4 separate regions of the Homo sapiens genome follow, and regions 1, 3 and 4 are each linked to region 2. The links come from fine-mapping of genetic effects on gene expression. A gene starts in region 2. Each other region holds a variant in brackets. All regions are shown on one strand. Distances are between the middles of the regions.

Region 1 (8,107 bases), 54 kb after region 2:
GTTTCCCTCGAGGAACATCCAGGTCCTAGAATCCACCAGACCCTTCCAGTGTTAAATCCTACAGTGCTCTCATTGACTGCCTCCTGGTCATAAGCTACTAGGTAGTGAAGGGCTGAGAACCAGACCCCACGTCTCCTGCCTCCGGGGGCCGTGTTCTTTCCCTGTCCCATGTGCCTCTCCCCGAGTGGGCACCTCCCTCCTCCCCAGTTATGCACGGGTGCCCCCAGCTATATAGAAGCGTGCCATGTCCACTTATGTCTGGTTTAGTATTCTGCCTGTACGACCTGTTTGTTCTCAGAAGAGCCGTGGGCTGCACTGGTGAGCAGGGTACCCTGTGTTCTGGAGCCTTCATTCCCCTCACCAGGCACACGGCCATGCAATTAGGCACTTGACACATGATGCCAATGTTGACAGCCGAGAATAGAACCCAAGAGTGGGAGGTTAGTCTGCTCAGCCGTGCTGTGGGATGAAGAGGTTTGTGGTTGCCACCTCAGCTTGAGGCTGAGCAGAGACCAGAGCTCAGAGTGGACGAAGCATCAGACAGGAGCCCCAGGTGTGGGCTGTAAAGCCATGGGAGAGAGTCCAGGGGTGCTTGACCTTCAAAGCCCATTCAGGTCTAAAGTCCTCAGAACCCAAGACCTAGACCCAGACAACAGGGAGCTGTAGAGTGGGTTCAGGCCAGGCCAATCTGGGCAGGACCAATAGGCTTGGCTGCCCCCACCCCAACTAGTGCCATTGGCCGTTCTGGGAGGGAGCAGTCTTTGGAGACTTCTGGTGATCATCACTGGTGTCAGCAGATCTTGTCCAAATTGATTCCTGTGGGCTTCTTGAGGTTGGGACTAAAATGTGTCTGAGCAGCAGGTGGGCCTGGACTGGAATGATCTTGAACCACACAAACCCTCATGTTTCTTTTTGTCAGAGGCATGTGAACCAGAGCAACTCCATCTTAAACAGGAGCTAGGTAAAATGAGGCTGAGACCTATTGTGTTGCATTCCCAGATGATGAAGGCATTCTAAGTCACAGGGTGAGATAGGAAGTCAGCACAAGATACAGGTCATAAAGACCTTGCTGATAAAACAGGTTACAGTAAAGAAGCCGGCCAAAACCTACCAAAATCAAGATGGCGATGAGAGTGTCCTCTGGTCATCCTCACTGCTACACTCCCACCAGTGCCACGACAGTTTACAAATGCCATAGAAATGTCAGGAAATTACCCTGATCTAAAATTTCTGGTCTAAAAAGGGGAGGCATGAATAATCCACCCTTTGTTTAGCATGTCATCAAGAAATAACTATAAAAATGGGCAAACAGCAGCCTTCAAGACTGCTGTGTCTATGGAGTAGCCATTCTCTTATTCCTTTACTTTCTTAATAAACTTGCTTTCACTTTATGGACTCACCCTCAATTCTTTCTTGTGTGAGATTCAAGAAACTTCTCTTGGGGTCTGGATCGGGACCCCTTTCCTATAACATTTTCACTCCTGCGTTTAGAACCAGAGACTCGCTGTGCAAAGTGGGAGTGAGGAGGGTGCAACTTGTGTCTCACAGCTCCAGAGGCAGAGCTGCCCCCTGCGGGTAAAAGGTGTAGAAAAACTCCTTTAACATATCCTAGGAAAGACCTCTTTGGTACTGAAAACCAACCAGAAATGGAATAGATAGGTTGTTTTTGCCAAAAGGGGCGCCTGTCATTGAAATATGCAGATGCTTGAAGGAACCAGAGGAACTTGGGTGATCTGTGATCACGGCCAACACTCAGTGTTGGGTATGTGTAGTTTACCACGTACATGATGGATATTATTTTTACTCATGTTCACAACAGTTCTGGGAAAGATAGTGCTAACATGCCCAATTTTATGGGCACGTACACTGAGATTCAGGGAGGTAACAGGATTTGTCCCAGATGATTAGACTGGGCCATGACAGAGCTCCAGAAATGTGCTTGTTTCATGCCAGTGTGATAAGAACTTTGCACACCTGGCATCCTTCTTTGGCTGCCATGGGGAGGTCTTAGTTCTAGTCCTGATTCTGTCTCCAGCTGAGTGTGGTCTTAACCCTTTCTGAGCCAGTGTCTCCTTCCTGTAAAGGGGCCAGGGCCACCTCCGGAGGCAGGAGAGAAGACAAAGAGCTAGTACACTGTGAGCTCTCTGTCACATGCACTGCCTGTGTCACGGGAGGGTATTTTTACTGAAGGGCGCCATTACATTAAAATGGAGACTCCATTTCTAAACAGGTGGGCACATTATCTCTAGCTGGAAGGAGCCTCCCCCAAGAGCACAGTTCACAGGTAAAGATTAGGAGGTGTTGAGTGCAGGTGGAGAAGGTTCTGGAAAATGTAAACCTCCTCCCCTACTTAACACTATTCCTGGCATCACCTGCATAGTCAGTCCTCAAGGGATTACTTGAAAGCTAGCACACCCCAGGGCATTTACTTTGGGGAAGGGAACATCCCTACCTTTGGTTCCCTCACTTGTAAAAACGAGGGAAGTAAAAACAAATTATCTGACATTCCCTTTAGCTTTGGTTCCTGCCATTGGTGAGTTTACAATCTTAGTTGTTACTTTTCTCTTTTATCAATATCTCCTTCTATCTTTTTCTTTCTTTCTGCTTTTCTCTCCCTCACCTTTTCTTCCCTCCACTGTCTCATATCTCCCTCAACAACCAAGGTCTCTCCTTGTAGCTAACGAGTTTAGCTCCCAGAATTATAGACCAAGACAATGATCCTGGAAGCATCAAATCTAGTCCAGGGGCTTTAGCCCAGACCTTAAGGAATCTTGGGCTATGGTGAGGGATTCAGGGGGGTTCTGCAAATATGGAAGTATTTTCAGCCAAACAATGAAGAAATAAACCACTTCAGGAGCTGAACGATCACTTTAAACAGTATGAAATATTCATATGCAAGACTGTTGGAAGAACGTCCCTCTCACCTAATCCCCTCACCTAATCCCCTCACTTTTTAGATGAGAAAAGCTGAGGTCAGATAGATAAGGTGATGTCTCCAAGTTATCCGAGTGTTGCTCTGGGGTTTAAGTTGCACATGATTCAAGAGTATAAAATCTTACAGCTTAT[CTGTGTGTGTGTGTG/C]TGTGTGTGTGTGTGTGTGTGTGTGTGTGTGTGTGTACACAAGGCAATCAGAATATTCTGTCAATAGAAGCAGAAAAGTAGAACTTGGTTCCTTCTGGGGCTCCTGAAAACTGGGGTGTAGACATAACCCCCACACTCTACTCCCACCTGCTTCATCTTATCCCCCACCCCAAGTGGAGCTAGGGGAGAGCAGCACACAGTTCCCCTCCTCACTGGCTGTCTCCTCCCTGCTGCCTCTTGTCTGTGGTGAGGCTGTGGAGAAGTGGGTTGCTGTTCTTTTTTCTGACTTCCTGTGTGCTTCAGAAACCTCAATGAACAAAGAGCTAAAGGAAGAAAGGGCCCCGGCACCGTTATGCCAAACATAGACTCACATCCGACACGGGGGAGCTGGATGCCCGATTTTTATAGAGATGAAACCCAGGATTCAGGATTCTGACTGCCCTGTTCCCAACGTGGCTGCATGGGGAATGTCAGTGCTTGGGAGCTGGAAGTAGGTCGCAGGCTTCTCATTCTTTTCAGGCTTAGGTCTAATGTATTTAAAGAGGTAGCCGAAGTGAGTCTTTAGATGTATCATGGAAATCAAACCAACATTAAAAGGGAACATTTAATTTCCTCTCTGCAACCACTGTTTTTTGTTTGCTTTTGGAGACAGGGTCTCATTCTGTCGCCCAGGCTGGAGTGCAATGGCACAGTCATAGCTCACTGAGCTTTGAACTCCTAGGCCACCTCACCCACCTGGGTAGCTGGGACTACAGGCACATGCCACCATGCCGGGGTCTTTTTAAAAATTTTTTGTAGAGATAGGAGTCTTGCCTGTGGCCCAGGCTGGTCTCAAACTTCTGGGCTCAAGTGATCTACCTACCTCGGCCTCCCAAAGTGCTAGGATTACAGGCGTGAGCCACCACACCCAGCCTACCACAGCTGTTTTAATTTCTCTGTTTTCCTTCAGTGTACAACTCAGCTGTAACCATAGGAGCACATTTCCATAGATAATTTGCATATAATCTCTGGAATCTTCATATTCCCTTAATTGAATATGCCTAAGTAGTCTCCTCATTACTTACCTTTTAGCACATGCAAGTTAATTTACGAGTGAGTCTCTCCATCCAGGTGAGAACAGCATCGCAGGGAAAAATCTGTGCATTTTATTTTTGAGATGGTATCTAAAAAAACTGGACTGCAATGGCGTGATCTTGGCTCACTGCAACCTCTGCCTCCTGGGCTCAAGCGATTCTCCCACCTCAGCCTCTTGAGTAACTGGGATTATAGGCTCCCGTCACCATGCCCAGCTAATTTTTTTGTATTTTAGTAGAGACGGGGTTTCACCATGTTGCCCAGGGTGGTTTCGAACTCCTGAGTTCAGGCAATCTGCCCGCCTTGGCATCCCAAAGTGCTGGGATTACAGGCATGAGCCACTGCACCTGGCCCTGTGCTTTTTTGATGTTGTTTTTGTTATTGTTGTTTATTATTGTTTGGACGACACATTGCTGAGCTTTCTGTCCATAAGCTCCTATTCTCAGGGACTTGCTACTCACATCATGATCCACAGGAGACTCTCGGGGTCACGTCTTTCTCTGCCCAGCCCTGGCTTCCTGGTGCTGTGTTCATGTCTGATTTTGGATCCCTGAGACCTTTTTCTCCTACCTTTCTTCTGAAAGGATAGCAGTCATTTTGTGACCTTGCTCAGGAAATTTTCAGCTGGGTTTTCCCTTTGTATTTTATTTGATGTTTTTCACCAGGGAGGAAAACTCCTGCTACCATGTGAGTTGTGCCAGGGGAGACTTGCCAGAGAAGAGCTGCCTGCAGGGGGATTTCTCGCTACCACATGCAGGGTTTCCCTACTTTGGAAGCCTCGTGGCTGGAATTTTAAAGGCCAAAGTTCCCCCAAATTTTCTGAACGCTGAATGATTGAAAACACCTATTTTTTTTTTCTCTTTTTACCCAAGCGCCTTTTTTCCCAATAAAGGGCTTGGGTAACGACAAGAAACTAAAACTGAAACCACAACTCTGCTCTAAAATAAGAGACTCAGAGACACCCAGGAAGGGCCTGCCTTTGAGACTTGTCACTCCCTGAGATCCATCGTGGCACCAAATGTTTGCCGAGCTCCGCCCTGGGAGGGAGGCCTGCAGCCTGGGAACTGGGAGACCTGGGTCCCAGTGGAGAGGCCTCACCATGTAGTAAGTCTCTCTCGATTCAGTTCTCACAGTGAGTTGAGGGCCAAGCCAGCCATTCTTCAGCCTCACCGGGTGGGTACCAGAATCACCTGAGATGTTAGGAAGGTGGGGAAAGAGGGAGGTGTTGGTCAAAGGGGACAAAGTTATTTACGTAGAATGAGTAAGTCCCAGAGATCTAATGCACAGCATGGTGACTGTACCTAAGTATGCTGTATTAGATACTTCAGATTGGCTAAGAGAGTTGATTTTTTTAATTTTAGTAATTTTTTAAATTTATGCATAATAACTGTACATATTTATGGGGTACAGAATGATATTTGAATACATGTATACTCTGTGTAATAATCAAATCAGAGTAATTACCATATTCATCATGGAAAGCATTTATCATTTCTTTGTGTTGGGAATATCCAGAATCCTCTCTTCTATTTAAAAATATACAATAAATTATTGACTCTAGTCACCCTACAGAGCTACAGAACATTAGCACTTAGTCCTCCTATCTAGCTTTAATTTGGTATCCATTAACCAACCTCTCTCCATCCACCTTCCACCCTGCCCTTCCCAGCCTATTATAACCACGATTCTGTCTACTTCTGTGAGCTCAACTTTTTTAGCTCCCACCTATGGGTGAGAAAATATAGTATTTCTCTTTCTGTGCCTGACTTATTTCACTTAACATAACATCCTCCAGGCTCATCCATGTTGTTGTGAATGACAAGATTTTATTCTTTTTCATGGCTAAATAGCACTCCATCTGTTGATGGGCACTTCGGTTGATTTCCTGTTTTGGCTATTGTGAGTAGTGCTGCAATCAATGTGGACGTGCAGATATCTCTTTGACATAATGATTTAATTTCCTCTGGAAAAAATCCCTAGTAGTGGGATTGCTAGATCATATGGTAGTTCTAGTTCTATTTGTAGTTTTTTTGAGGAATCTCCATACGGTTCCCCGTAATGGTTATACTAATTTACATTCCCACCAATAGCGTTTAGGAGTTCTCTTTTCTCAACATCCTCACCAGCATTTGTTATTTTTTGTCTTTTTGATAATAGCCATTCTAACTGGGTGAGATGCTATCTCATTGTAGTTTTGATTCATATTTCCCTTATGATTAGTGATATCGAGCATATTTTCATTTATCTGTTGGCCATTTCTATGTCTTCTTTGTTTTTCTGAGACGGAGTCTCACTCTGTTGCCCAGGCTGGAATGCAGTGGCATGATCTCGGCTCACTGCAACCTTTGCCTCCTGGGTTCCAATGATTCTCGTGCCTCGGCCATTGGAGTAGCTAGGATTACAGGTGCACCACCATGCCCAGCTAATTTTTGAATTTTTAATAGAGAGGGGCTTTCCCCATGTTGGCCAGGCTGGTCTTGAACTCCTGTCCTCAAGTCATCCATCCACCTTGGCCTTCCAAAGTGCTGGGATTATAGGTGTGAGCCACCACACCTGGTTATATGTCTTCTTTTGAGAAATGTCCTTTCAGATACTTTGCTCATTAAAAAAAAATTATTATTATTTACCATTGAGTTGTTTGAGTTCCTCATGTATCCTGGATATCAGTCCCTTGTTGGATGAACGGTTTTCACATATTTTCTCCCATTCTACAGGTTGCCTGGTCCACTCTGTCAGTTGTTTCCTTTGCTGTGCAGAAGCTTGTAGCTTGATACAATCCCATTTGTCATTGGGAGGTCAAGACAGGAGGATTGCTTGAAGCCAGGAGTTCAAGATAAGCCTGGGCAACATAGTGAGATGCTGTCTCTGTTTTTTTTTTTAATCCCATGTGCCTATTTTTGCTTCTGTTACCTGTGTTTTTGAAGTCTTACCTGCAAAATATTTGCCCAGACCAATGTCCCGAAGGATTTACCCTGCTTTCTTCTAGTAGTTTTATAGTTTTGAATCTCACATTTTAGTCCTTATTCTGAGTTGATTTCATGTATAGTGAGAGATAGGGATCTAGTTTCATTCTTCTGCATATGGTTATTCAGATTTTTCAGCACCATTTATTGAAAACACTGTCTTTTTCCCAATGTATGTTCTTGGCATCTTTGTTGAAAATCAGTTAGCTATAAATATGTGGATGTATTTCTGGGTTCTCTATTCTGTTTCATTTGTCTGTGTGTCTGTTTTTATATCAGTACCATGCTATTTTGGTTACTTTAGCTTTGTAGTATTTTTGAAATCAGGTAGTGTGATGCCTCCAGCTTTGCTCTTTTTGCTCAGAATTGCTTTGGCTATTTGGGGTATTTTTTGATTCTACATGAACTTTAAGATTGTCTTTTCTATCATATTTCTGTGAAGAATATCATTGGTCTTTTGATGGGGGTTGCATGGAATTCGTAGAGCGCTTTAGGTAGTATGGTCATTTTAACAATATTAATTATTCCAATCCATGAACATGGAACATTTTTCCATTTTGTGTGTGTGTCCTCTTCTAATTCTTCCCACCCCCCCACTCTCCCAACACACGCCGAGATGGAGTCTTGTTCTGTCACCCAAGCTGGAGTGCTGTGGTGCAATCGTGGCTCACTGCAACTTCTGCCTCCTGGTTCAAGCAATTCTCCTGTCTCAGCCTCCCAAGTATCTGGGATTACAGGCACGTGCCACCAGGCCTGGATAATTTTTGTATTTTTAGTAGAGACGGGGTGTCACCACGTTGGCCAGGCTGGTCTCGAAATGGCTGGTCTCGAGCTCCTGACCTCGTGATCTGCCCACCTTGACCTCCCAAAGTGCTGGGATTACAGGTGTGAGCCACCGCGCCTGGCCTCCTCTGTTTCTTTCATCAGTGTTTTATAGTTTCCATCATAAAGGTCTTTCTTGGTTAAAAAATATCCTCTCTTATTAAAATT
Region 2 (8,107 bases):
CTCTTCAACCATTGCGGAGAACTTAATCACATGGTCGCACCTGGTCACACATGCAAGGGAGACTGGGAAATGTAGCCTTCATTTTGGGCAGGCTGTGACCATCTGAAAGTCAGGGATTCCAATATTAAGGAAAGAAAAGAGAAAGTTCTTTTTTAGGTTGAGGGCATGATTTTGAGTTCTATTCAAGCCATACTCAACTTATTTTGGCCTCAACTGTGGCCCACTTCGTAAACATAGTGATGTCTGGTTAAATTAGAGGTAGACATCCCTTGGTGATGAAGTACTTTTTTCAGTACTTGTACCCATAAGTTTTTCTTTGTCCCTTTTTTTTTTTAAATGGACTATCACTCTGTCACCCAGGCTGGAGTGCAGTGGCATGATTATAGCTCACTGTAACCTCTGCCTCCCAGGTTCAAGCGATTCTCCTGCCTCAGCCCCACCAAGGAGCTGGGACTACAGGCATACACCACTATGCCCAGCTAGTTTTTGTATTTATCCATTTTTTTTGTTAGAATACTTATAACCATACTGTTCTTTTAAAATAAAATTTATTCTACATAATAGTAAATTTACATGATGTAATTTAAATTCCATCATTTACAATGGAGAGATGCCAGTTACATAATGTCGCAGCCCTGCCAATGATGGGTTTTGCTCTTTACCACCTGGGAGCCTGTGAATAATTTATTTACCTTATCCAAGCTTCCTTTTCCTTTCTGCAAACCAGGAATAGGACTAGCAACTTCATAGACGGTTGTGAAGACAAGCTAGACGGCAGATGAAAGTTCTTGGCACAGAGTGAACACTTGATAAACTATATGGCAGGTATGTATGTACTATCTCCCCATAAAGCTTACTTTAATTGCTATCATTTCTAAAAATTATAGCTATAGAATTTTTCATAGCATTTGTACACCTATCACTTAATTTGGGCTTCACAATACCCTGGGAAACAGGTAGAACAGATAATACTTATTTTTCTACTTTTCTAGATTAGGAAATAAAAGCTCAGAAAGATGGATTCGCATGTCCAAAGTCACAACCTCTTCCCTCTTGACTGGATCCTTCCTGTGAGCATTGAAACCTGCTCTACTGGCTATCATCCTAAATGACAAATCAGTCCTCTTTCAACCCACGACCCCCTCCAATATCCCCTGGTCTCAATTGCCCTTGGCAGTCAAGCTTTCCAGGACTCATCAGCGCGTGCCGCCTCTGTGTCTTCACTTTCAGTTTACTTATCAGCCCACCCCACTTGACCTTTGGCTCTTCATTCATTTGCTCCTGGTAAGAGCTTCACTTGAAGTCCTCTGCTGTCTCTGACTCTTGCCTTAGACAAGTTTATCCATTCTTGTGGTTTCAAATGCCATCCCAAAAGTTAATCACCAGCTCAACCACCTTTGTGATCTCCAGTTAGTGAAAAGATAAGAAAAGAGAACCTGAACCAGGATGGGTCAATAGGACAGGAAAGAAAACGAGGAATAGGAAAAAAGTTTGTGGGACTCCCAGGACTTAGAGATTGGAGATTGCATGGCTGCAGGGTAAGGAGGGAGAGGGAGAGTCAAAGGTGACTTCTCTTTTGTTGACATTCACAGGGAGGGCTGGAACGGGGCTTGTTTGAAGAGCAATATGAGCCAGGGTTATAGACCTGAGTTTGGGGTAAGAGTGGAACATCCAAATGGAAGAGTCCAGCAGCTGAAAGGACATTTGTTCAAAGGCCTTTTTCATTACAGTTTTCTCCTTCTTCTGATCCAGGTATGCATCCCCCCAACACCCCCACAATTAGGGCCTCCCACATGGCACTTGGTCAGCTTGAGATACAGAAGTAGAAGGGAAATATTTTTCTTCTCTAACTGGGGTAGATCATTATTGCAACTTATGCCATATGGAGAGCATCGCCATGGATAGTGTCTTTTAGGGATTTCCATGGAATTTGAGGGCTCCTGAGGCATTTCTGATGGGTTTTTTTAAAAGGCAGTAACAGGCAGAAATGCATGACCTTGTCACCTGAGTTGCTTGTACATGACACTGGACAGAACCTAGGGAGACCTGATGGCGGAGTTGGCCACCCCAGAGAGTTTCTCAATGTCTTTTTCATTTAAAAAGCTATGGGTTTATGATTCTGTGAGGTAGATTTGGGAGATTCTTTTTTTAAAGTGCTGAAGAATTCAACAACCTCTGAAAACTCACCTTTCCCAGAATTGGTCCCAGCAAGATAAGATTGTAGTTCATTTATGTGGCCACACAGGGGCAGCACACACAAACTCTCCTTTTCTTAAACAGGTCTTGATTGTCTTTGCTTTTAGTTCCCACTGCCACCTCCTAGTACAGACTCTCAACAACTCACCCAGGTATCTAACTTTTGTGCCACTCAGCCTTCATCACTTCATTTCCAAGCGCAAGAATACGGAGGGGACACCCACTGTCAGATGCCCTCTGACCATGTCCTTGCCATGTAGTCAATTACCTGCCTCCTCATCCCCACACCTTCCCTGCTAACTTCAGTGTACCTCTGTCTGACTTGCCTCTCCATCCCTGGCCAAGTTCTCCCACCTGACCACCTTCTGACCTGCTGACCGCTGTGTAGTCACCAAGATTACCTCCAAAATGCTGAGTGCTGGGAACGTGACAAATCTGTGAATAGCACAAATGGGAAGGGGTGGGGGGGCTCCAGCTGTCAAGGCTGGCAGTGCCCATCAATGGGTTGTGAGCCCCATGCTGGGCAGGTGGGCCCTAGCTGCAGAGAGTCTGATCTTCATCGGACCCAGAGTGACATCCAGCCAATAGCTATGGGTAGTCCACTAATTATACTTTGAGAAACATTGACTTCCTAGCTTTGTTAACTTATCTAAGTCTCCAGTTTCTTTTCAGAAATGGGAAGGAGTCAGTGCAATCTTGGAAACTGAGTGCTTCCTCAGCACAACTCCAGGGGGCGCCATTCTCAGAAAGTACATTGTGAATAGCATCCTCTAGAATTGTGCAACAGGGCAGCTCTGGGAATCAGATTCCAATCCTGCACAGGACACAGAATAAAGAAGCTTGGGACAGGGGCTCTGGAGAGGACATTGTAGGATGAGGATGATGCTGCGTACACTCCACTTTTTTCACTTTATGCCAAGTCCAGGTCACTTCCTCCTCCTACTCAGGAGCAAGTCTGGAGTTTTCCTAGGGATAGGGAAGAAGTGTTGCTAAGTGCCCTTGAGTGCCTGCTCACATATCACCGGCCTGAGGAAAGAGGGGACCAGCCTCTGGGCGGGGCCCCTGGAAGGGGCTGTCCAGCATCTCTAACTATTCTTGTGCTGTCCTCAGACCCTACTTAGTCACAGCTCAGGGACCTGGTCTTCTGTGTTCAGGGACCTGGACCGGTTCTGCCAAAATCCCTAGTGGTATTTATGATTTTTCATGCCTGCAAAGGGACTGGGGCCACTTTAGGACATGGAGAGATTAGGACACAAGTGCTCAGTACCATGTAGATATAACATCTCCCACTGCGGGGGGTCTTGGGAGAACCAGCCTGAGAAGTTGGTTTCCTCCGCCCGCCCTGCGCCCCCACCCACCTCACACACACCTTTTGGCCTCCAAAAGGCTGCAGGTGGAGTGGACAGAGGATGGAGGGGTGTTAGGAATTGGGGAGTTAACTGCTCACAAGGGGCACATAACATCCGAGGATCCCATTTGCGGCCGGGGGAATGGCAGAGATCGCCCCCCAGGTCTGCCCGGCGCTCAGGGAATTGGTGGCAGCGTCTATTTCAGAGTTTATGGTAAGAGGCTGGAGCCGGCACACACAGACAACACACCCCACCCTTTAAGGAAGTGGGGAGGAGAGCAGCAGGGGTGTGGTTAACAACTCAGAGGAGGAGGGAGAATCTAACCTGTCAGCCCTTTTACTCAGCCACAGCCTCCGGAGCCGTTGCACACCTACCTGCCCGGCCGACTTACCTGTACTTGCCGCCGTCCCGGCTCACCTGGCGGTGCCCGAGGAGTAGTCGCTGGAGTCCGCGCCTCCCTGGGTGAGTCCCTCCCGCGAGCCAGGGCTGAGCGCTGCGCCCGGCAGAAGTTGGAGGCTTGACCGGGTGGCAGGGGTTGGGGACAATTCCGGGATCCTGGGCACCTGAGCTGGGAGTTCCCGGAGAAACGGCCAGACCCAGGAAATCGGAGCCGTGGGTGCTGTGCACATGCCCGGAGCTCGCCAGCCTTCCGCGGGGAAGAGGGGTTCTATTTTTGGAGTAAATTTGACACTATAGGGTGTTTCTCCCTCTTTGTCCTCTCAACATATTCAGACAGGGGAGGCTGGGGGAGGCTAGGGGTGACGGTGTGAGGGCACAGCCAGGCTGCTGCCTCTAAAGCTCAGGTTAGGGAGCCACGGGGTTTCAGCTCCTGCCCCCGCTCCCCGCTCCCTCCCGGGCCCTTCCGCAGCCCCAGGGGTTATAGTCTCACCCCCAGCCCACCCTGACTCTCCTGCAGCCACTCCTTGCACCTGAGAGGTCATCTTCTGAATCAAGCCCTGGCTGGAGGAAAGCAAGGGTGTTCTGGGGCACAGGGGAGCTCGTGTGTATGTGTGTGTGTGTGTGTGTGTGTGTGTGTGTGTGTAGTTAACACTGGCCATTCTGGTATCTTGAGAAGCCGCCTCCTGAGTGCCACTCAAGGGTTAAGTTCAGAGCTGCCTCTGCCTGCTGTCAGGCTGCGCGTGGGCACCGCTTTGGGTGGGTGAGCGTGGAGCGGCATATGGGTGATGTTCTGCAAGCCCTGCCACCTGCCCTAAGCCTCGACCACATGACACTGGCATCTCCCTATACCCCAAACTGGGAGCAAAATCCAAGTCCGCTCATTTAAGGAGCCAGCAGAAGGACAAGAGCAGAAAGTTGTGCCTAGAGGTGGCTTTAGCCAGGAGGAACTCGGAAGCTGCGCTGTGGCTGGGTCTGAGCCCACTGGGGCAGTGCACGTGGTGTGATGTGGTGGTGGGTGCTGGGAGGCCCCTCTACGTGGGATGCTCTCTGTTCACCCCAAGTGCTGTTGCTGAAGGCCCTGTCTTTCCCAACCACTCTGGGGGAGGGGGAGGAGGACACTGATGAAAAAGTGACTAAAGACAGAAGGGAGGAAGGAAGTAGTCACACTGGAGAGCCCCAGCATTGGTGGGACAGTCTGCAGTCATCCATTCAGGAGGCACTCACTGGCTTCCCACCTGCGGCCAGGTGCAAGGTGTGGGGACAAGGTGAGTGTGGCATGGCCTCTGCTCACCAGGGCAGTGTGGGATACCGGGTGGTTGAGGGAGGGCTGCCAGGGGAAGGTGCAGGGTACTATCCAACCCTGCACTAGAGGGCTGTGGGGGGAGCCAGTCAGCAATGGCCAGGAGGGCGTCCTGGCAGAAGTGACTCCAAATTGAGAGCTGAAGGATGACTAGAAATTAGCACAAGAGAAGAGGGGAAAGAACAGCAAGTGCAGAGACTGGAGGCTAAAAGCAGCAGGAGGCTGGAAGCAGCGGGCGGCATCCAGGAAAATGAAAGTAGCTGGGCTTGTTGGGAACCTAGAGCGTGCAGGGGCGAGGGGAAGCTGCAGGGGTGAGTGGAGACTGCTCTAGAAGGCTTTGGAAGGCCTGCCAGGCTGCCATGGCAACTTCTGTTGGAGCAACACTTGGGACCTGGAGCCAGGCAGGAGACTTCCCAGCAGGAAGAGATTGCCAGATTTAGCCAATAAAAGCACGGGACACTCAGATTTGAATTTCAGATAAGCACTCAATGGTTTTTTTTTTCACTACAAATATGTCTCATGAACTACATGGAACATACTTATACTCAAACATTATTCACTGTTTCTCTGAAATTCACATTTAACTGGGTGTCCTGTATTTATCTGGCAACCCTACTCTAGGAGAAGCTGAGGTTGGCGCAATGCTGTGAAGTAAAGGCTGGAAACTGCCCAGGCACTCTGAGAACAGTCTCAGGTCTATCTTGTAACCATTCCTCCTGGATTTTATTATGAGCTCATTTAAAAAACAAAAAATCAATTCCTTGGTCAGTTTATTCATCTATACAGGTGAAGGAGTATGGTACCTCAGAAAAAACGACATTAAATCCAGACAGATCTGGGTTCAAATCCATGTAGACCGGTGAGCTTCTCTGACCCTCAGAATCCTCTTTTCTGAAATGAGGGCAGGAGTATCTGTTTGTGCAGGTGGTTGGGAGGATCCCTGATAATGTATGTAAATTGCCTAGTGAGTACTAAAGGAAACATGGTACATATTGAATTTTGCAACACCTTCACAGGGTTGAGCAAAGCAACAGCCACAGAGTGCTTGGGTTCATTTACTTCCACAAGTGAGCACTTGGAGGTCTCAGGTGAAATACATAGTAGGGTTCATGCTTCCAGTGAGAACTCGTGGGGTTAGCCCTTGGGTTGGGGACAGAGTCTGCATTATGTTTTTAGCTTTGCTACTCCCTTCCCATATGACCTGCTTCAAGGGGTGGAGATATAACACTCTTCTTGAGGGATGGTGGGTGGGCAGAGAGTGACTCAAAGTAGAATTAACTGAAGGGAAATGTGAATGAATTAAAGTAGAGAATCCAGATAAAATATTCAGCGCAGACAAATGCGCCATGAAATTTGGCTGTCATGATTCCCAGTTTTAGGATGAGTTCCTTATTAGAAAAGTAGCGCTAAGAGATAGAGGAAGTGAAGGTGCCTTATGAACTGGATTTTGACTTTAATGGGAGCATTTGTAACAACAAATTAGGGTCCTCCTAAAAGGGAACCTAGAGGAAGTTAAGAATTCGTTAAGAGAAAGAGGAAATGGAAAGTGTGTTTCCCTTGTGGGAACGGCTAGGTTAAAAATGGTCCTTCTTTCCAGTGGCTAAATCTCCCCATCCCCCTGTGATAAACATTTTGTCCCCAGGCCCTTGGATTGTTTGCCCAGGTGGTGTTGAGAGAGACCCTATGGCGTGAGATGGATAGAGGTGTTCCACTGATGAAACGTTCAAATGAGCCTGCACTTGGACATGTGTCTTGAATATTTGCAAGATCAAGGTTATGATAAGTCCTGCATAAAAAGACACGTGTCATTCCCTGAGGATGGCTGTAGAGCCCATGCACATTCTCAGGGAAACAGCATTCCACATTGAGTGAACCTTGATGTGAGGGCAGTTTGGGGACCAAGCAGGTCGTTCAGAAGGCATAGCCCTTCTCATAACTCTAGCCAGGATGGACCTAATTCATTCTAGACTAGGCAGTGTCCAACTTAGAGAAGATCTTCAAGGAAGGAGCCCTTGCGTGCAACCTTTTTTTTTTTTTGAGATGGAGTCTCACTCTGTTGCCCAGGCTGGAGTGCAGTGGCGCGATCTCAGCTCACTGCAACCTCTGCCTCCTGGGTTCAAGTGATTCTCCTGCCTCAGCCTCCCGAGTAGCTGGGATTACAGGCACGCACCACCACGTCCAGCTAATTTTTGTATTTTTAGTAGAGACGGGGTTTCGCCATGTTGGCCAGGAGGGTCTCAATTTCTTGACCTCATGATCTGCCTGCCTCAGCCTCCCAAAGTGCTAGGATTACAGGTGTGAGCCACCGCGTCTGGCTGTATGCAATCTTTCTAGCATCATGCATCCTTCAGAGACACAAACTCCCACCTGTATCAGCCTGAGTCTTCCCATTGCAGATCCGGCCATGTTTCATCGTGCAGAGGACCCTGGAGAAAGTCCAAGTCCCTTGGCACTTAGCTCTCCATAGTGACGACAGTAGCTCCATGTACCCCAAATACTGCTAGGACAAAGGAAACTGATGGTGAGGCTAGGGAGGGGAGGGAGGCTACCCTGGGGCTACCCTGCATGGTAGGTCACTCAGTCTCTAGTTTCCCCTGCCTGGGACCCATATGTCTCAGGACCATGTGACCCTGGCCTCCCAGGTAAATGGCCACATTGGGGGATGGAGTAGAGGTGCAGAGCTGCGACGTGCCCGGGGCTGAAAGTGTGGTGATGAAGATAAGTTTTGCTGGCTTGAGGATGAAGAGTTTCCTTGTAGAGTACGGGTCAGTTCCAGGGTTAAGGAGAAAGAGCAGGGATAGTGGTGACTCTGCAACACTGATATGCCTTATCTGTCCAAGCAGTCGGATGGTCAAGAGCTCAG
Region 3 (8,107 bases), 30 kb before region 2:
AAGAGCATGGCACCAGCATCTGATGAGAGCCCTCATGCTGTGTCATCCCATGGCAGAAGGAAGAAGGGCAAGAGACTACACATAAGACCAAGAGCAAGAGAGCAAGAGGGGCCCAAACTCACTTTTATAACAAGCCCACTCTCTCAATAACTAACCCACTCTGCCAGTAACAACATTAACCCATTCATGAGGGCTCTCATGACCCAATCACTTCTTATTAGGCTCCACCACCCAACACTGTTGCATTGGGGATTAAGTTTGTAACACATAAATTTTGGGGAACATATTTAAACCACAGCAACCACCAATTGATAAATCAATCAATAAAATATAATATAGCCATGTGCAACGTAACGATGTTTCAGTCAACAAGGAACCACATATATGACTATGGTATGGTCCCATGAGATTATATCACTGTTTTTTACTGTACTTTTTCTATGTTTAGATATACAAATACTTAACAGTGGGCTCCAGTTGCCTACAGTATTCAGTGCAGCAACGTGCTGTACAGGTTTGTAGCCTAGGAGCAAAAGGCTATTCCATATAATCTAGGTGTGCAGTAGGCTACACCATGTAGGCTTCTGTAAGCACACTCCATGACACTTGCATAATGAAGAAACTGCCTAATAATACATTTCTCAGAACATATCCCCATCACTAAGAAGTGCATGATTATATATCTATGCCATGGAATATTATTCAGCCATAAAAAAGAATGAAGTACTGATAGATGCTACAACATGAATGATGTTTCAAAATATGCTGACTGAAAGAAGGCAGTCACAAAAGGTTACATGTTATATAATTCCATGCATTTGAAATGTCTACAACAGGTAAATCCATATAGATAGTATGTAGACTAGTGGTTGCCAGGGGCTGCTAATTCTAGTAATTACCACTCTGTTAGACTCAATTTCGGTAGCAGTTTTTATGTGGGAGGAGGAACTGGGGAGTGACAGCTAAAGCAGGGCTGCTTTTGGAGGCATGAAATGTTCTAAAATTGTCGTGATGGTTGCACAACTCTGTATATACTAAAAATCACTGAGTGGTACATTTTAAATGGGTGAATTGTTTAGCATGTAAATTATATCTCAATAAAGTTGTTAATAAAAAATAAAAAAGAGTCACAAACCAAAATCATCCCTGAAAGCACTCTGAGTACTGGGCAGACAATACTCCCAATTCCCTAAACAGAATCCTCGAGACACACAGCTTTTAGATCCCACAAAATGATTTTTCTTTTTCTTTTTTTTTTTTCTTCATTTTTCTTTTTAGAGACAGCTCTGAACACAGAATGATTTCATAATCAGGGACATTTTTGAGACAGGAGACTTCATGGTTCCAGGCTTTGAGTGAGGTGGAGAACTCCTAAAGGACCCACCCAGGAGATGACACTGCCTGAACAGATAACTGTCCCTGTCGCCTCCCACTCCACTCTACAGCGACACCCCTTCCACAGCAGTCAGCTGTTTTCCAGGTACAAGAGACACCTCACCACCCTGGCCAGTTTACAGACCAGCTTTCGAGCCCAGAAATTTCCCTGTAGGAAATTTGTAAGGACCACTGGCTCATGGGGAGGAAATAAATCAATAAAAGGAAAAAAAAATGAATAATACTGTTTTTTTAAAGAGAGAATGGAATCATCCTTTTCTTAAGAAGACAGAAAGCCAAGGCATTATATTTAAATAAAAAATTTAAATAATTGAATGATTTTAAAAGAATTCATCTTATTAAAAGGTAGAGACCGGAAAAAAAATGAGAGTAAGAGAGAGGGCAAGAGAAAGGAAGAAAGAAGAGACAGGAGCTGGGCACAGTGGTGCGCCAGTAGTCCAACTACCTGGGAGGCCAAGGTGGAAGCATCACTTGAGGCCAGGGATTCAAGACCAGCTTGGGCAACATAGTGAGACCCCCCTCACCCCTACCTGACTGGTAAAAAATGAAAAAAATTAGTTGGGCATGGTGGCTCGTGCCTGTAGTCCCAGCTACTCAGGAGGCTAAGGAGAGAGGATCACTTGAGCCCATGAGTTTGAGGTTACACTGAGCTATAATCACCCACTGTACTCCAGCCTGGGTGATACAGCAAGACCCTGTCTCTAAAAAAAAGAAGAGCGAGGAAGAAATAACAGGGTTTCAAGGAACTCCGCCCTGATAAGTCTTTTTAGTTTCATGACACAAGCAGAGCAGGTTACTTGTGAGCTCCTCCAGGCCAGTACCCAGGAAGCTCCAGGAAGATGACGTTGGCCAGGGCTGGTGGGCTATGGCTCCCAGCTGGTCCTGGAACATGTGGCCCTGTCACTGAATCCAGACGCTGAGCTCCTTACCATGAGAAAAGAAACGTCGTCCTCCTTCATCTCCATCTGCAGCCGCTCGATCTCATGTGCCAGCACCTCCGTCTCCTCTGTGAGCTGCTTCATCTTCTCGTCGGCCAGAAGTTGCTTCTGCCTTGTCTCCTCGGCCATGGCATCCAGAATGGCCTGCTCCTCCACTCTCAAGAACTCGCGAAGCTTATCAAACTCCTGCCGGATCCGGCCTTCCAGCCATGCAGCCTCCACCTACGGAAGACAGCAGGAGGAGTCAGGGGTCAGATGTGGAGAGGACATCCATAGCCCAGCAACTTTCCCATTTTTAGCAAAGGAAATTTATGTTCAAATAAATCATGTATAGAACCCCTACAGATAAAATATCAACATAATAGTTTATAAGCACAAATTTCTAAGTTCCGATTTCAAATGGGAAAGTCCAACAACCTAATATTAGATTGTTTTGACAGGGTTTTTAAAAATAAAATCACAGCTTATATAGATGGCAACTGTAGTACTATAACCTCATCTACATACAATGTTCAGTTCCTTCTTTAGGTTGCACCATAACAAGGGAAGTCCTGAATCATAGAAATGAATGGCTGCGAATAGCAATGATTTTTTTTTAAGTATTTACCTTCCAATCTTAGGACTTAAAATTTGTCTGATCCAGAGGCTTTACCAAAAGAGCAGTAGGAAGCATTCATTTTAAAACAATCATTAAAATAATATACACACTCCAAATCACAACCACAAAAAGTTT[GT/G]TTTTTTTTTTCTTTTTGAGACTAAGTCTCGCTCTTTCACCTAGGCTGGAGTGCAGTGGTGTGATCTTGGCTCACTGCAACCTCTGCCTCCTGGGTTCAAGCAATTTTCCCTGCCTCAGCCTCCCGAGTAGCTGGGACTACAGGCACACGCCACCACGCCCAGCTAATTTTTGTATTTTTTAGTAGAGATGGGGTTTTGCCACGTTGGTCAGGCTGGTCTCAAACTCCTGACTTAAGGTGATCTGCCCGCCTCGGCCTCCCAAAGTGCTGGGATTACAAGCGTGAGCCACTGTGCCCAGCCTCACAAAAAGTTTTTTAAAAGGGAAGATAAAACCATAAATGTAATGAAAGAAAAAGCAAATAAATATTTCTCAGCTTGGAATAAGAAAGACATTCCTCGGCACAGTATGAAACTGAGAAGCCTTGAAGAAAGAATGAGATAACTGAATACACAGAAAAATAAGAGGTGTGTATGGCAAGAGACTATCATAAAGTTAAAGACAAAAATACAATTCCATGACAACTGTTGGAAAAACCATTCAAAATGTGTGCTGTGGCAATGGCAGGTTAGTAAACTCATCTTTGGACTGAAAGTTAAATACAGATGCTCCTCAAGTTATGATGGGGTTACATCCCAATAAACCCATCATAAGTTGAAAAATAGTTAAGTCAAAGCAATGAATACACCTAACCTACTAAAAACATCATAGGTTAGCCTAGCCTACCTTAAACGTGCCCAGGACACTCACATTAGCCTACACTTGGGCAGAATCATCCAACACAAAGCCTATGTCATAATAAAGCACTGAGTGTCTCATGTAATTTATTGAATACTGTACTGAAGGGGAAAAACAGAATGGTTGTATGGGTACTCAAAGTACAGTTTCTACTGAATGCATATTGCTTTCGTACCACAGTAAAGTCAAAAAATCATAAGCCAGGGACTGTGTGTATGTTTACAGCTCTGAAAATATACGAAAAGGATTCACTGAAAAAATGAAAATGGCCAAAAAAATTGAGAATGATCCACTCAAAAAGAAATGACAAACTAGGAAATATATTTGCAACATTTATGACAAATGGCTATTATTATTAATGTACAAAGCACTCTTACAAATCCACTAAGAGAAAAGACAAATATTCCAAGGGAAAAAAAGAATGTGAATTAGCATTCACAGAAGAAGCATAAATGACTATTATGCTTGTGAAAAGATGTACAAACTTACCAATAATCAAAGAAATGCAAATGAGGACAAACAGCATGGTTAACCTATCAGGCTGAAAAGACTGATAATGTCTGCATTGGAGAGAGTAGAATCCAGGGTGATTCTCTTTTTTTTTTTTTTTTTTTACATTTAAGTTCCAGGATACATGTGCAGGACATGCAGGTTTGTTACATAGGTAAATGTGCGCCATGGTGGTCTGCTGCACCTGTCAACCCATCACCTAGGCATTAAGCCCCGCATGCATTAGCTATTTATCCTGATGCTCTCCCTCTCCCCAGTAATTCTTATCACACAAAAACATCAAGAACACAGCATGGCAGGAAAAACCAGCAAGTGCAAGGTCAACTCCTGCCCACTCACCGTGGGCAATGACGGCCTCACTGTAAAGGAACAAACACCAGAACTTTCACTTTCCTCATCGACCTGATAACTGAATTTAATAGAAAAAGTACTAATCAGGCTGGAATTCTAGGGGCTTCCCATGTGACCTCATTACCCTTAGCCTCAGCAAAAAGCTCAGGACTCCTACACTCCCTGGGATGGGCAGGCAGTGCCACCACACAGACAGACAGATACTCCCTAAGTATCCCCAACCCAGTCCTGTACAAGGCAAGCCAGTCATATGGCTTTAGCCACAGAAGGAAACCAAGTAAGAGAACAATGATAAAGCTACATGACTCCACGATGACTACTGGAAAAACAACTCAACAAACTCCAGCAACAGCAGGTTCGTAATCGCTATTTGGAGTTGGAATTTCAACATGTATTTATGGCTCTGACATCGGATGACAAAATAATCTACTGAACAAAGTGAAAACTCTCTCCCACCAGTTTGTTGGTCTATTAGACATCAGAAATGTTAAGGACTTGTCTCTGTTGGGCACTTGTATGCATTATCTTATCTAAATTTTTTTTTAAAAACCCTAGTAAAAGGGAATTGCCCTCTTTTTACAGAGGAGGGGATTAGCTTGGAGGGGGTTGAGGGATTTGCTGGGGAACTGGGCTTAGATTTGGAAATAGGTCTGCTTTGCGGTTACTGCCCTGGCACCCAGTGTGTCACATAATCCTTTCTTCCACACTGTTCCACCAGCTCTGTGGCTCAGGGTAAACTCCACAGCCAAATGTTAATGAGGCTCTTTCCTGGGACTAATCCTCACCTATGGACACATGGTGGAGGGGACCGCAGGCTCCTGAGGACAGCGCCCAGCAACCTGGACCAGGCATGGCTCAGCTGTGGCTAAGATGAGTCTAACAGAGTGGTAATTACTAGAAGCAACCACTTCAGAAAGCCAAAGACCAGAGCCAAGATCAACAGTCAGAAACAAGGTTGCCAATCCACACAGGACCTGGAGGAAGAGAGGGTGCCAGGCAGAACAACCAGAATGGGGACAGAGGGAGCCCACTCATTCATTTGATTAACAGTTATTGGTCACCTACCCACTTCACTCATTCAATCAACAATTTTTATTGGTCACCTATTGTGTGCCAAGAACTCCTCTAGATAACTGGCAATAGTGTGCCCTGTTTTCATTATATTTTGACAGGAAGGGATAAAAAGCAAATAGAAAACAAAAGGTAATTACAGGTAATGAAGTGTCATTAAGAAAATAAACCAGGAAATTATGCCATCGAGTAAAAGAGGAGGATGATCAGGAAAAGCTTCTTTAAGAGAACATCTGAGCTGAGATTTTAATGGCAAAGATGCTGGGCATGTGTTCTGGGGAGAAGACTTAGTTTGCTTAAGGGACAGAAAGAAGGTGAGGCAGAGAAGTAAATGAGGTTGAGGATAGGCAGGGTCAGGAGATGGCCTTGGAGGCCATGGTAAGGAATCTGGGTGGTACTGAGGGTGACTGGAAGCCACTGGCAGTTTTAAGCAGAGGAGGGGCACGGCTGGTGTTTTTTTCTAAACGATCACCCCAGTCCATGGAAAGGAGAATGCACAAGAATGAAAGCATGAGGCCCTAGGCAGGAGGCCCAGTGAGAGATGATGATGACCTGGACCAAAAGGTGGAGGGTTTTACAGAAATAACATACTTTGGAGATAGGGGAATAGGATTGCTGATGGAGTGGATGTGGGAACTGAAAGAAAACAAGAAAGTACATGAGTCCCAGGTCATCATTGAACACACAGGTGGCAGTGATATGATGCATGTGCCATAGTGCAGATGGTGTTGGTAGCTTTTTAAGTCACTCCTGTGGCTGCTGGCATGACCACGCCTGGGTCTTTAGAGGGGCCAAGGCAGAGAAGCCACAGTCAGCATCCAGGACGTGGCTGCACAGGACCATCAGAGGTAAGGCAGCCGACCTCTACCCAGCGGGTTATGTGAGCCAAAGCCACGGCTGACACATCTTCACTCCTCCCCAGACTGCCCTGAGTGGACCCAATCTTCCCACTTGGCCCCATCGTTCGCTCACCTGATTGTGCTTGGCGATGGCCTCATAGGAGCGCCGCATGGCCCAGAAGGCCTTGGCCTTCTCCCGCAGTGCATGCTCCATGTTCCTGCACTTGGCCTGACATGGGAATGAGAGAGAGGGAGGAAGACAGGTTAGGGCTGGAGGCTGGGCAGAGAGGGCAGACACATCACATTTACAACTGGGACTCCACTTCAACACAAGTGTAACTCAACTGCATTTGCCTAACCCCATCCATGCCAAGTGCTCTGGGCACAAATGGTAAGTAAGGTCCTGATCCTGAATCAGACATCCATGGGATAAAGAGCCCTCAGACATCCTGTAGCCCAGCCTGGTACAGACTGGGAGATGGGGCTGAGAAGAAGCAAGCTGCTCTCTCTCATGTTGGTCACAGCACAGGCCAGAAGAGTGTCCCATGTGGGCCAAAAGCTGGTTCATGCTGGGTCTGAATCCCTGAGCTGTGTGGACAACTGCAGACAGTGTGGTCATAGGTTCCCTCTGCAGTTTCCTAAACTGAATGGGTCTGCAATCTCTAATGTGAGGTGACTGACAATGGGGGTGGAGCCAGTCATTTCCCACGGGGTTCAGTTACCTCCCATGAGGCCTCACCTCAACATGCCCAACATGCCCCTCCATACCCCTCCTGCATCCTGACATTCTAACACTGCTTGTATCGCACGGAATACTTTAATCAGCAGGCACAAATACTTTTGGTTTAGTAGTTTTTGTTTCTTAAACTTTAATGATTGTTTCTGATGTCCTTGGACAACTTGAAGAACCACTAGAGTGTTTTAGGTTGGATTCCTGCCTCTTGTATCTTAGGCCTATCATTTTTTCTCCCTCATTATCCTTTTCGATCTACATTCTCAGAAAGCTTCTCAAGTTTTTTCTTAAGAAAAATAATTCAAATAATTATAAATGGTTATCATTTATTCAGTACTTACTCTGTGCCAGGGACAACACCAATTACTTGAGAAATTATGTCATTTAATCATTACTTCTCCCTAGTAGATAAGTAATATTATTGGCCCCATTTATAGATGAGAAAGTGAGGCACAGAAGGGAAATGACCAGCCCAAGGGCACACAGCTAGTATGTGGAAGGACGTGAACCTGGACAGCTATGGAGGCAGCTGCTGAGACAGCACCCAGTGATCCCTCCCTCCTGTGAGATGAGAGTGTTTTAAGCTGCTAAATGTCGGGGTGACTGGATATGCAGCAATAAATTATACAGATGTGTCGCCCAAAGCCTCATTCCCATCTGGACCTGATTTAGATGACAAATCTGGACTTTGGGCTGATGCTGTAAAGGGATGAGATGTTTGGAGAGCTTGGGAGAGGGCCAGTGCATTTTGCATGTGGGAGGGACATGACTCCTTATGGGGCAAAGGACAGATTCAGGC
Region 4 (8,107 bases), 30 kb after region 2:
AATCCCTTTAATCACGGGTGAGAAAATGGTCTCCAAGATGTTAGAAGTGATTAATCTGGGATTGTAGAAATGTTCCATTTGCCTTTAAAATAAAAATACAAAAATAAGAAAGCATAAAAGTGACTTACCTAAGGTTCCACAGCCACACAGACAAAGAATTTGTCTAGACCCTGAATCTGTTGACTTCCATCCCTCTACTGGTCCTAATGGATTCCATCTGAGGCTAGAACTGAGTTTCCAAAAATATCCTTTACCAAAAAAAATAAATTAATTAATAAATAAATAAAAGTGTACTAATGCCTCCAACTAGTCTTTGCAATGTAAAACTTTCCATTTTCAACATTTCACAATCTCCAGGATAATTTCATCAACATTATCTTTTGAATAAAACATAGACTTATCTATGGGGAAACATTACACCTAAAATGTCAGCAGTCAGCAAATCTCTCAAAAGACACCTGGTTATGTAGGATTAAAACCACCCGTTGAAGGGCAATGTGAAAATGGAACCTCTGTTTGACTTTCGTAACCCACTTCCCACGTAGCCCATCCACTGGAGGGAAAGAGAAACTGCTAATGGGATGGTAAAAGCAGTTTGAATGCCATCCCCCGCAGAAGCTCCTGTCTACAGCTTTTGTTCCCATGGTCTCTTCAATAAATATGACTCAGGCTGCTGTTTGGGCTTCACTTCCTCTGGGCAGGGAGCTGACAGCAGCGGCTCTGCTGTGCCCATCATGGTTGACTCAGGGGACCCACGGCGGGGGGGCTGCCTGTCCTCTCCCCAGCTGACCAAACACCCTTCTGCTCTTCCAAGCGCTGCTGTCCCTGACTCTTCTAGCTTTCAAAGTTCTCACCAATTCATAAGGCTGGTGGCTCCCCATCACCCCATTACTTTTTCTAAAGCAGTGCTGTGCACGTATCTTGATAAGCTGCCAAAGTGCTTTTTTCACCCACCTACTCACCTATAGAATTCATAGTCTCCAGTGTAGGCATGACGCATGGAAGGCCAAGGAAAGGCCAACATGTGTTCCTGCAAAAAACAAAAGCAAAAGACAGGAAAAGCCTCCCAACCATCTCACCTCTTCTAAATGCTTGTTGGAGCAAGACCACAATCTACTTAACGTCTTCAGGGGTGGAGGGGGGGCGGTCATCTGGGCCAGCCTACACTTGTAAACTTCTTTTTGCTATAGAATCAGCTATGAAAGGAGCTTTCACTTATTTGGATACACATTATTTGATATGGTTTGGCTGTGTCCCCACCCAAATCTCATCTTGAATTCTCATGTGTTGTGGGAGGGACCCGGTGGGAGGTAATTGAATCATGTGGGTAGGTCTTTCCAACACTGTTCTCATGATGGTGAATATGTCTTGTGAGATCTGATGGTTTTGAAAAACGGAAGTCTCCCTGCACAAGCTCTTTTTGCCTGTTGCCATCCATGTAAGACGTGACTTGCTCCTCCTTGCCTTCTGCCATAATTGTGAGGCTTCCCTAGCCATGTGGAACTGTAAGTTCAATTAAACCCCTTTCTTTTGTAAATTGCCCAGTCTCAGTTATGTCTTTATCAGCAGTGTGAAAATGGACTAATACATTATTATTCTAAACTCAAGGGGATGGATTCTAGAACAAGAACTGTAGCATTTTACATAACAAGAACAGTTACAAAGGATTGAATAAAGAGTATGGGGGTCTCCTTCACCTAAGCCAGCCCAGGCTACAGTCACCTAAAGGATACAGAGAAGTGGAGAACCACATTTTCACGGGACTGCTCATCTAGTCTTGGGATTAAAGGGGATTAATTGCAAAAATATTTAGTTAGCAATCCAAAAATATTTAGCGTCCACTACAGAAGAGACCCAGAAGATTTACGGTATAAGTTTGCCATAAGCTACATACCAGTTGGGCTGTTAATGTTGGGGGCTGTGTTTTTCTCCAATACTCAAGGGCAGTAGGGAGTGGATGGGGAGATACCACATCAGGCTAGTCAGTCACCCTTGGCTTTGGGATGGCACTCCTTGTCCAAGAAAGTGCTGTTTTTTGCTAGGACATCTCAGATGCAGGGTGCATTGCTTACCAATCTGCTGTGAAATTTTCTCCTCCTTGTCCTTTCTTCATATGGGATAGGAAAGGCCCAGCTTGGCCTAACTATGCCCTCACACGCTGATCTGTGAGTGTGAGTAAACACAGCTCCTAACTCATTCACTCATGCATGCTCGCTCTCTCTCTAACACACACACACATTGATCCTGTGGTCACCATAGCACAGCCCTGTATCTACCTAGTAATGGCAGACCAAGACAGCACTTGAACAGATGAGGCAACTAGGGTAGGGCTGTTCCCAGGGGAGGCTGTTCAGGAGGCACGATTTCTACTGCTCAGCTGCATGAAGGTTAATAGCCTGGAGTGCCAACTCCGTAAACCTTATCAGTCACTTAGACCTGACTATGGGTGGCTCTGTAAGATATTTCCCAAGAGCAGGGGACAAAGAGCCTCAGCAGAAATGGGCCTGCTATTGAAGATGAAGCAGGGAAAGGCAGGTGTCACACCCCTGTTTATTGTCCCAGCACTCTTTTAGTTGCAGATGACAGAAACCCAAAAGAGAGGATTCACCTTGGCTCACATACCCAAATTAAGGGAAGATTCAGGAAGCAGCTGAACTCAGGTGTGGTGGGAATCAGGACCTCATCCCAGAACCTCAGACATCTCTGTGTCTGCCCCTCTGCCTCTGCTTCTGTCTCTCACATCTCTGGCTGTCATTACATGTTGGCTTAATTCTTTCAGAACAACTTGTGCCAAAAGAAAGGAACTTGGTGGCTAATGGTGTCTGAGCTCCCAGCCATAGCCCTATCACCCAGAGAAAAGCCCTTTTCCCCAAGCTAAAGTAAAAATGCCAAAGAATAACTCTGATTAGTTTGGCTAAGATCGTGTGTCCATTTCTGGACTAACCCCCACAGCCAAAAGGGTGGGGTACTGTGTTTGCTTCCTCTTGATTAATGTGCCCCATCCTGTGGTCCAGGCCAGGACGGGGAGGAAGAGGAGATGGTGTTCTGTGATGAGCCGTCTCCACTAGCACACAAGGCTGGCCTGGGAGGAGGAACAGTCTCACAAAGAAAGCCAGTGAAATTCTCCCAAGCAGGGAAAGGAGACGTTGCAGACAGATGAAACAATTGAGGTCACCTGCAATCTATGTGCAAGCAGTTTTTGATTTGCGGCCGGCAGGTATGTTGACTGTTGGGAGGACTGTTAAACTTGGAAAACAGGAAAATAGTGACATCCGAAGTGCTTGAAAAATGGCAGCGTGTAATTATAGCTGGGAACAAAATAAAACTTTGCAGAAAGAACAGGTAGTGAGGGTGTGAAGTATATGTCAATAAATCATTTACATACCGCTGGGCTGTTTGATGATTGTTATTCTATGAAGGTAA[A/C]TGAGCTTGCCTTCCTTGTCTCATTGGCCTGCTTGTAGGATCTCACCAACCAATTTGTGTGTTTGCTCCTTGTTCTGTCTCTCCTGGGCTGGAACCCAATGTCAATATTAGGGATGGTCTTCCGACGGAATCATCCCTGATTTTCAAGGATGATATTTTTATTATACTGCTTATGTCTAGAGCTGAAAAACCACCTTGCTCTTCAGTCTTGAGGGAATGATGTTCTTACAGTAAACGACTCTTTTTGATTCTGCCTCTTAACTCCCCAGACTATACTTTGTTCTTATTCAAAAGGAGCATTAGCTCTAATACTCTGCTACAGGCTGTCTAATAACAACCTCCCAAAGATGTCCGCATCCTAATCCCAGAACTTGTGCGTGTGCTACCTTACATGCCAAAGAGACTTTGCAGATGCAATTAAGTTAAGGATAGTGGAATGGGGAGATTATCTTGGATTATCCGGTTGGACCTAATGTTATCACAAGGGTCCTTTTAAGAGAGAGGCAGGAAGGTCAGAGTAAGAGAAGGCAGTGCAACAACAGAAGCAGAAGTCAGAAAGAGGGAGGGAAGAGAGAGAGAAGAGAGACAAGAGAGAGATTGTAAGGCACTATGCTGCTGGTTTTGAAGATGGAGGAAGGAACCGCGAGCCAAATAATGTAGCCTCTAGGAGCTGGAAAAGACAAGAAGAAGGATTCTCCCCTAGCACCCCAGAAAGAAGTCAACCCTGCTGGCACCTTGGTTTTAGGACTTCTGACCACCAGAATGGTAAGATAAATTAGTGTTGTTTTAAGCCACTAAATTGGTGGTAATTTGTTACAGCAATAGTAGGCAACCAATACAGCTACCTTTCTGGAGAGCAACTTGGCAGCATGTACTAAGAAATATGAGTGTATTCCTTCTGACTCAGTAATTCTAGCTCTAGGCTTCTCTCCTAGTGAAATAATCAGATCTGTAGAAATACACTTATATATTTAGAAGTTTGAGGCTACGCATGGTGGCTCATGCCTGTAATCCCAGCACTTTGGGAGGCCGAGGCCAGTGAATCACAAGGTCAGGAGTTTGAGACCAGCCTGGCCAACATAGTGAAACCCTGTCTCTACTAAAAATACAAACAATTAGCTGGGCATGGTGGCAGGCACCTGTAATCTCAGCTACTTGGGAGGCTGAGGCCCGAGAATTGCTTGAACCCGGGAGGCAGAGGTAGCAGTGAGCCAAGATCATGCCATTGTACTCCAGCCCAGGCGACAGTGCAAGACTGTCTCAAAAAAAAAAAAAAAGTTCCAGTATTATCTAGAATACTAGAATAGTAACACCTTGGAGCCGTCTGAGAGCCCTACTGGTGGCTCTATCTCTATTATAATTACAACACTGTTCAAGTAAGAAAACATGGCCCCCTTAGTGATGACAGTCCCTCTCTATGTGGCTTCCAGCAATGTGTTATGATCGCAGGTTGGGGTGGCCTGTATTAGGAAAAGACTGTGATGACAGCTTTGCTGTTGATCTATTGATTCAACAAATGCTTACTGACCGTATTGGGCCCTGGGCCAGAGCTGAGGGCAAAGAGTAAAGGACATCTATGGGATTGTAAGGAAGCTGCAAGAGTCTGGCCAGGGAGATGGTTATCAACACAGAGACTTCACAGAATACTTGGTGTTTTACTTAAAACTTGAAGGATTGATAAGAATGAACTGCAGCTGAAAAGCCAATGAATTCATGGAATGCAGTATAGATCCTCACTGCTCACGAGGAATTCTGAAGGCTCTGATGAACTGCAGCTGAAAAGCCAGTGAATTCATGGAATGCAGTATAGATCCTCACTGCTCACCAGGAATTCTGAAGGCTCTGCAGCCTGAAGCAGGACTAGCCCTCTTGTCAAAGAGCTGCAGTCAATAGCGGAAAAACGTAAACAATGCAAATGTCCTTTAATGGGAGACTAGTATATTCACACCATGAAATACTACTCAGCAATGAAAATGAACAAACTATTGACACGGGCAACGACCTGGATGGATCTCAAGGGTATTATGCTGAATGAAGAAAATGTTCATCTCAAAAAGTCACATACTGTATGATTCCATTGACATCACATCCTTTAAGAGATGAAACTGTAGAGATGGAGAGCAAACTAGGGGTTGTGGAGATGGGTGGTGGCACGAATGTGTCTAAAAGGGGTAACCCAAAGAAGTCTTTTCACGGTGATGAAACAGTTCTGTATCTTGACTGTGGTGATGGTCTCATGAGTGTGTTCACAGGATGAAATTGCATGGAACTACATACATACCACACACACCCACACATACGAATGAATCCATGTAAAAAAAATAATGAAAATGGGATCAGGTCTGTAGTTCAGTCACAGTATTATATGAATGTCAGTTTCCTGGTTTTGATATTATTATTCTACAAGGTGTTCCCATTAGGGGAAGATGAGTCAAGGGTACTCAGGACTCTATGTGCTATTTGTACAACTTCCTGTGAGTCTATAATTCTTTCAAAATAAAAAGTACAAAAAATACTGACAAATTAAAATTCCTCTGACACTTCTTCTGTCTCCAAGAATTTTCTCACCACTTGTATGGTTCCAGAGCCACTTCAGTTGGTGTTTAAATATTAATCCCTCATGGTCCTCACATCATTTCCAGGGGTCTTCTCATGATCTTGTAGGATAGGGAGGTAACCAGCAACTGACAGCAGAAGAGAATGGGAAATTCATTTTCTTGCAAATCTCCAGTGCAGGGGGCCACCCCGTGCCTGCCATCTCCCTTAACCGCTATCAGGAGCATCATTTCCCAACCACCAGCTTTGAAGGAAATTGGGTCTCTTGTTGTGAAACTGGGCTTTCTTCTCTCTCCTTTGTCAACTCTGAATGAGAGAGGGGAAATGGGTCAGGTTAGAGAGAGGAGATGCCTTTTTTGAAGAGGAGATCTGAGTGAGATAAAGATATAGATAGCCAAGAGTAAGTGAGATAACAGAGTAGGTGCTCTGGCATAATAGAAAATGCACAGGCTTGGAATTACAGCTGCATTCATTCATTCATCTGATATTTATCAAGTGCCTAATCTGTGCCAGGCATAGTTTTACATGCTAGGGATATGGAGTGAAAATATGGTCCCTAGCCTCATGGAGATTATGTCAGATGACTGCAATTTAGACTCTATAGCTCCCCAGTCATGTGACCTCTGAAAAGTCACTTAATATCTTTGAAGCTCGGTTTCTACTCTGTAAATTGGGGTTACTAGTAGTAATTGGGGTAACCAAGCCAACCTCATTGGATTTCTATGGGGTTGCATAAGAAGGTTTACTTAGTTCTTAGCACAATGTCTTAAACATAGTAGACGTTCCCTTTTTCTCATTAGTTCTCTTCATCCTCACTCTTTGCTCCCCTCCTTGGTAGATTGGTTAGAACCATCTAAATTCCCCCAGGGCAGCACAGGGCTGTGGATATAGCTCTGCACTGTAGGTTCAGCTGAGTTAAGCCATCCTCAGTTGAGTTGACTGCTACACAGTTTTGTAGCACTCAGGCCAAATGAAACCATGAAGAAGAAAAGAAGCAATACTTTTTGCATTTCTGTCCATTTTTGCTTTATATTTTTAATTGTCTGTGTTTTGGTGCATATAAGCTTATGATTGTAACTTCTTGGCAAATTTTTCCTTTTTAACATGATTCCTCATAATCATATTTTTAATGTTTTTCTTCAAATCTTATTTGCTATTTTATATATCAATATCAACTTTCACTTAGTAACTGGTTTATATTTTTCTGTCTCTTTATTTTTAACTTTTGATGTCTTAATGTTTTTAGGTTTGCTTCTTGTAAACTACAGATAGCTGGATTTTTAAAAAATTAAGTCTAAGTGTCTTTGTCTTTTAACAGGCAATTTAAGCTTCTTTATTTATTAAGACTTCTAATATATTTAGTATATGTATACTACATTATTTTGTTTGCCATGCTTCATCTTTGCCTTTTCTCACCTCTTGCCTTTCACTGTATTGATTATGTGTTTATTATTTTCTCCTCTTGTAGCCTATTGGTTTAGAAGTTATATATTAGGTTTCTATTATTTTAATGGAAAAATAGGTTAAAAATAAAACCTAATAATAGGTTTCTATTATTTTAATTTTTTAACACATACTTGAATTTAAGGTCTAACATTAATCAATATCATTATCCTCCTTACCAAATTGGAAGGATTTTATGGCACTTTGACTCTAATCTTTCTCTTCTCATGTCCCAAACTGTTGTCCACTGGTATTATAGTATTATCTTCTTTTCAACATCTCCCCTCCCCATTTTAGCCATTAGGATTATTATCTTGGACTTTGCATACCTTCTTTTTTTTCTATTTAGATATTGCAAATATATATATTTTTGAAACATACATAGTCTTGCTCTGTCACCCAGGCTGGAGTGCAGTGGCGCGATCTCAGCTCACTGAAACCTCCACCTCCCAGGTTCAAGTAATTCTCCTGCCACAGCCTCCCGAGTAGCTGGACTACAGGCATGCACCACAATGCCTGGTTAATTTTTTGTATTTTTAGTAGAGAAGGGGTTTCACCATATTGGCCAGGCTGGTCTCAAACTCCTGACCTCAAGCGATCTGCCTGCCTCAGCCTCCCAAAGTGCTGGGATTACAGGCGTGAGCCACTGCACCTGGCCTTGCAAATATACTTTTTATTGTCTTAA

Alleles and levels. Alleles are on the strand shown, and positions count from the first base shown. SD is a standard deviation of normalised expression in the study named. Not every link is listed here.
As copies of CTGTGTGTGTGTGTG replace C in region 1, the expression in neutrophils of the gene that starts at base 3,878 in region 2 goes down (moderate effect, 0.50 SD a copy in Naranbhai 2015).

Evidence for each region. PIP is the estimated chance that this variant, and not a neighbour inherited with it, causes the effect.
Region 1: its variant is fine-mapped to the expression of PTK2B in neutrophils (Naranbhai 2015, PIP 0.95).
Region 3: its variant is fine-mapped to the expression of PTK2B in whole blood (INTERVAL, PIP above 0.99).
Region 4: its variant is fine-mapped to the expression of PTK2B in whole blood (INTERVAL, PIP 0.91).

The regions. Positions count from the first base shown.
Region 1 is chr8:27,375,535-27,383,641 of GRCh38, forward strand. The region is part of intron 1 of PTK2B (protein tyrosine kinase 2 beta); the gene reads left to right. Among named protein-coding and RNA genes, the nearest start is that of MIR6842, 54 kb to the right of the region's middle. RefSeq lists enhancers at 2-61, 462-591, 2,969-3,158, 4,850-4,909, 5,160-5,469. The variant CTGTGTGTGTGTGTG/C (reference allele first, on the strand shown) is at 3,067.
Region 2 is chr8:27,321,675-27,329,781 of GRCh38, forward strand. It overlaps PTK2B (protein tyrosine kinase 2 beta), which reads left to right and starts at 3,878. Exons shown (of 31, transcript NM_173176.3): 1 at 3,878-4,007. RefSeq lists enhancers at 3,923-4,072, 4,123-4,172, 4,778-5,607, 4,953-5,022 and a silencer at 5,765-5,961.
Region 3 is chr8:27,291,756-27,299,862 of GRCh38, forward strand. It overlaps TRIM35 (tripartite motif containing 35), which reads right to left. Exons shown (of 6, transcript NM_171982.5): 2 at 6,709-6,804; 3 at 2,325-2,555. Among named protein-coding and RNA genes, the nearest start is that of TRIM35, 15 kb to the right of the region's middle. The variant GT/G (reference allele first, on the strand shown) is at 3,067.
Region 4 is chr8:27,351,336-27,359,442 of GRCh38, forward strand. All of the region lies in intron 1 of PTK2B (protein tyrosine kinase 2 beta), which reads left to right. Among named protein-coding and RNA genes, the nearest start is that of PTK2B, 30 kb to the left of the region's middle. RefSeq lists an enhancer at 917-976. The variant A/C (reference allele first, on the strand shown) is at 3,424.